Regions from separate parts of the Homo sapiens genome. Here region 2 is linked to region 1. The links come from fine-mapping of genetic effects on gene expression. A gene starts in region 1. The other region holds a variant in brackets. All regions are shown on one strand. Distances are from middle to middle.

The links. PIP is the estimated chance that this variant, and not a neighbour inherited with it, causes the effect.
Region 2: its variant is fine-mapped to the expression of LINC00517 in thyroid (GTEx, PIP above 0.99).

The regions. Positions count from the first base shown.
Region 1 is chr14:37,900,500-37,903,428 of GRCh38, reverse strand. It overlaps LINC00517 (long intergenic non-protein coding RNA 517), which reads left to right and starts at 1,305. Exons shown (of 2, transcript NR_135286.1): 1 at 1,305-1,413.
Region 2 is chr14:38,592,203-38,595,131 of GRCh38, reverse strand. No RefSeq gene overlaps it. Among named protein-coding and RNA genes, the nearest start is that of LINC00639, 320 kb to the left of the region's middle. The variant C/T (reference allele first, on the strand shown) is at 1,484.

The DNA.
Region 1 (2,929 bases):
CATGCATACCAACAAGATAAACTCCAAATGTCTAAATGTTTGGACACCACCCATAAATGATGAAAATTTATAAGAACTGTCTTACATATATTCTTGAAGTCTTTCAAAAAACAGAGGTAATATGGCACAGTGTTATAAAAACACTTTCATTCCCATGAGGCTACTGTTCTGGTCACCACCAGTTCAAAGGCCACTGCATCATCTGTCTACAGATGGTCGTGGCTTTGTGCTAGAGGTATCTTCTCTTTTGATTACATCTTGAGAATAGAGTAGGTAATAATCCGGGCTAGGATAGTGGGGACAAACTGATTCTATTGACAAGGTTGAGTCTCTCTCATGCTCACACAACAACTCCAATAATGTTCAAAGCATACATTCTCTTGCCCACCAACCATCTACAATTGGCAAACTCAGAAAGAAAATGTTCAGTTGTTTCAATGAAAAGGGAACTTATTTCTCATTTAGGCTCTAGCTGTGTTTAATATGAAGACCTGTCTTCACTCTACATGACTGGAACTCCAACCTTTAGTGCAATGTATCTTGGACTTGAGGAGAAAACATGAAAGTCAATGCAAAACATCTCTGTCATTTAGTCTTCCACTCACATTTTCAAGTACTACTAGTACTAATAACCCTGTTTGCTTACATGATTCTAACTGGGTACATTTCACTTCAACTTTTAGCTCAGCATTGTAATTTTAGCTCTTCTTCGTGGATCAGACCACATAACAACTCCGAATCATGTTTTTATTATGACAAAAGTTTGTGGATAAAATTCACTTTGCTAAATGACATTAATTTAACACGATGTATTGAATATCTGCTATGTGCCCATTACAGAACTAGGTTCAAGGCAAAGGCCAACAGAAAATAAGCATACTTAGTTTCCAACATCAAATGTGTGTTTTTCCTCTACATTTGCATCCAAAGAAAATACTCTTATGCACATCAGGTTTAATCTCTTAGCTTGACTTACGCTAAATTTATATTATATAGAGACTAAAATATGCTTTCAAAATTTTCAATTTCTATTCTTGTCTGTTTTGTAATCTCCCAAGAACATCTGGAAGCTGGGGAAAACATCAGAGCAAGTGAAGAATGTTCAAATATACAGGGACCATCCAGAGACATGTGGCCTGCACGTTGATGAGCAATGTGAACTGAATTACTGTTGTATCTGGAGGAATTCCATAAAAGAGAGTAATCAGTCTATTTGGATCCCAACTGCCTTTTCCTGTCCCCAAAGGGCGGGAACTAGTGTGGGTGGAAAAACCCAATGCATCCCAAGGCAGTCCTGCCTTCTAAAGCGCCCGCCAGGACAGGCTCCTGGTGGGTTGTAAGGAGAACGGCAGGAAGAAGTGCTCCCAGGAAGCTGCCTAGCCACCGCCACCACCACAGGGTTCCATCCAACTGGTAGGAAACATGCCCTCTTGGCAAGACATATCCTAAAGAGACTGATTCTCCTTCTGTCTCTCCTGTTTTCTCCACTTCTAGCAGAACAATGTTCCCAGTGAGAATCATGAAAAGATAGTGATGTCTTTTTCTCCATAAGTTTGTTTATTTCCTTTAGCATGAATCCAAGCCCAGTTTAATTCTCTAAAACCACAGCTGGTCAACATCCCTCATAAAATTAAATAATAAACAGCTATATGAAGTGCATACTGCATGACTGTCACACATCTACAAGAACTTTTCAAACTTTCTTGGCCACTTTGTGGTGTGTGAAATATCTATAAGCAACAGATAGTGTAATATTTTCTGAACTCAATCTGAAGTTTTCTGTTATTTGATTGATGATTTTAGACCATTCATATCTTACATGAAAAGAGATGCACATGCCTTGCCATTTCATCTGATTTTAGGTTTACTATTCCTTATTCTTTATTGTTATTTCCTCTTTTCTATTTTCTTACGTTGGCTGACTTGGTCACATTTTTTTCATTCCCTTGCCTTCATCACCCCTCCACCTCCATCTCTACCTCCACTAATTGGAAACTTAAGCTGTGTTTATTAATCTTGCTGATAATTGGATCTGTATTGCTCTATTAATGTGTCTAAATTAAAATAATATAATTATGCCCTGCCACCTGAATATTTTGCTTTATCACTCCCTTCCCTGCCATGCTCCCTTCTAAGCCCACAGTTTTGCTGAACTAGGAATTGTCCTGAGAACTTTCTTCCACAATGGCTCAGCAGATCTCCATTTTAAACCGGCAGTCTGCAAACTCAGCCCTGAGGACACAGCCAGCCCGCTTCCAGGCATCTCCTGCGAGCTGCTCCCAGGAAAGAACAGCAAAGCAACCTGGTCCAGTGTAGACATGCTGTTCAAATCATCTGTGGTTGAATGACTATTTTTTTAATTTAATCTTTTGCAGACATTTTTGGTAAAACATTATATAAATGAATTACTAGAAAAAAAGAAATACAAAAGTAAAAACATATGAAATATAAGCCCCAATCTTTTGTTATTAGATTCAATACACATAGAAATAAATTTTAATACATACAATCAAAACAAACAGCATGGGATAAAATAAAAGAATCCCAAAACCATATGAATGATTCATTGAAAGTATGTTTACAGATTAATATAGAAAATGCTTATTATACTAGCCGCTTTTACTCATTGTGCAATGAAAACAAAAAGTTATGAAAGAAATAATGGTCTCTGTGGTAAGTACTGTGTAGATACTTTGTACAAACACTATACATATCAACATTTAAGGTTTCTAATGTTACAAAGGAACTTGTTTCTTGCTTATTAACTTATCTAAATCAAATTGAATTGGCAACAATACTGCTTACAGGGCATGACAGGTATCTAGTTTCTATGTTTTCTTTTAATAAAACTGATAGTAGAGAAACAAGTCTTAACCAGAGGTATGTTGGCAAGGACAGAATAAGATATTTTAAAGGCATCTGAGCAAGA
Region 2 (2,929 bases), 690 kb before region 1:
TCCATATTTCTTTGCTGTTATTTTTATAGACATTTTTGAGGAAGGAGATATAAACACCTAGTGCATAGTCTGCTCTGTAGAAGCAGAAGCTTCATTGTCATAGTATCATTTATATTAGAAGCAGAGTACTTTACTGAATGGAAATATCATCATAAATCTATATAGCTACATATTTATCATATTACATCTGATCTATATCAACCCTCTATTAGTGGATATTTAGGTTATTTATGATGCCTTAAATCATTTTTAATTTTTTTCATTAATTTTTTTATGTTTTTGATTTTAAAATCTCTTTTCTCTAGGTGCACACAAAAAATCTACAAACAAAATACTACTATAACTCAAATTTATGTTGTATATTAGACAAAGATTCCATTTTTTTCTGAATGTGATAATCATTTGCAGATCAATTAGGAGAGACTGACTCTTTTGAGGGCCAAATAAGAAAGAAATTCAACATAAAGAGCTTTTGACAGCCAATCTGGAGAGGAATAAATACTCAGAGATAGGGCTTCATTTTCCAGTACAATGGATACTGAACTGAAAGAGTAGAATGGTATAACTGTTGGTATTGACAGGCGTGCCTGCTAAAAGCAGCCAACATTTTCCCCAGCATTAGGTAGTCATCCTCAAGAGCCATTGAAATGGGAGCAAACAGAGACATTCTCTATTAGGAAGAGTCAATACCAAAGGTCATTGAAAGGCATTTTTGGCTGCCTCTTAGGCATAAGAAATATTTAAGAATTCATAGATGGATAAAAAATGTCTTAAACATGTTCCAAATCAATTACCCTAAGCAGTCTAACATTGGTCCAATTTTTGAAGTTTTTCATCATTGATTTACACAACAGAAAGATGAGCCTAAAAGTATATGTTGTTCTATGCTAAAGTCATGTTAGTGCAATTATTTGGCTGCTAAATCTTTATTAATGCTGTGCCATTCAGGGCCTAGATTTTTGAAATATAGCACCAAGGCCTATAGAAGGGCCTCTCAATGGAATGCAGAGCATTGGTTCTCCAGAGAGAACCTATTTCTTTAAATGTTCCACTGCTCCAGATTAATCAGAAGTGTGGATGTTCTGAACTTCATATTGTAGCTGAGCTTTTTCTCCTAGTAGGAGCTGTACATAATGTGTTCAAGGATAAGAAGTGACCAAGATTTATTCCTTTGTGTCACAGATATCCAAAGCTGAAATGTGGTGTATAAAAAAGCTTTCATTGAAAGGTGGAAATTACTATAACTCTAAATTAATAATGAAAATTATTGAAAATGAGCACAGTTCCAACTTAAAAATTTTTTTTCTCTTCAACATTATTTATGGCTACTGTTCTCTTTGTGATTATGCTTATCTGTTAAGAAGTAACTTTTGGAGTCTAGTGTTTTATTCTTGAACGAGTGCAGGACTTCCTCAAAATGCTCTAATTGCAAGCACACTCAGGAATGGAAAGATCTGTAGGCATACTCCAAGGCATCTGCATC[C/T]GGCTAGGAGTCAAAAGCTCTTGGCTTAGCTTCCTTCTATCTCATCTGTAAAATTGGATTATTAATGTTACGTCCGACTAACTGAAAGATTGTGAAGAATAAATAGAACTATGGGTATAAACATAGTATGTAAAAGCAAGATATTAATATTTTTACACATCCTTGGAAATGTATGGGATCTCATTTTGAAAAAGAGGAAGGAAATGTCTTTTTGTCCTCTCCTCCCTTGCTAGGTTATTGGATATATTAGTCGGCTTGGGCCGCCATAACAAAATACCGTAGACTGGGCGGTTTAAAAAACAGAAATTTATTTTCTCACAGTTCTGGATGCCAGAAGTCCAAGATCAAGTTTCCAGCCAATTCAGTTTCTGGTGAGGACACTCTTCCTGCCTTGCAGATGGCCATGTTTTTGCTGTGTCCTCACATGGCCTTTCCTCAGTGTGTGCACATGGAGAAGGAAAGAGAGTGAGCTCTGTGTCTTTTCCTGTAAGGACACTAATCAGATCAGAGCCCTATACTCATTTAACCTTGATTAGTTTCATACTCCAGTTACAGCCACCCCTAGGGTTAGGGCTTCAACACATGAATTTTGGTGGAAAGGGGGTACACGACCATTCAGTCCATAACATCAGGGAAGATTAAGTTGTCTGGCACTACAGAGTCCTCAGCTGTAGGCTCATAAATAGCAGTGCCTCAAATGACGCATCAACACAGAAAAAAGGACTGAGTGCTAAAGATTTGTTTTCCAGAACTTCTCAAGTAGCTTTTCCATGAAGCCTCTTCCGTTCTTGGTCAGTACTTGAAGAGAACAAAATATTTAGTTTTTGAGATGCCACTATTAATTCTTTTCATACAATTTCTAACGTTGTCAAAACATTTTGAGCTTTATTGGTCTCCTGAGGTGGTGGTGTGTCCCTGCATATAGGAGAAAACAGTGATTCTGGAAGTACAGATTATTCATAAATCAAGAGGTGCTCACTTTGGACAAGTCTGCCAACAGGTACCAGGGTCTGTATGCCTGGCTTAAATTTGATGGGCTAAAATGTCTTCTGTTCATGTTATTGGCTAAAACGACTGATGTTTCAATAACCACTCCATCATGTGAGCCTCAAATGACAGAGCCATATTTTCCTGGAAAGACTATGCAACAATCTTTAAATAATTATATATACATATATATATAATTATAGGTGAAGACTATAAGGGCTAACAATTTACTCAGATTGACTAGACATTTCTAGGGGGACAGTCAAAATTAGAAGGCCAATCTCTAATATTTCCCTAATGGAAAATATTAGAAAATGATTATATAGAGACAGTTTTTACTGTGATGTGTCATTTATTCTCCTGAGCATTTTTCTTTATGTTTTTGAAACAGAATGTTAAATGAGACTCTGTCTTGATTTTGGCTAAGGCCTCAAAGGCTGAGAACAAAACAGTATTTCC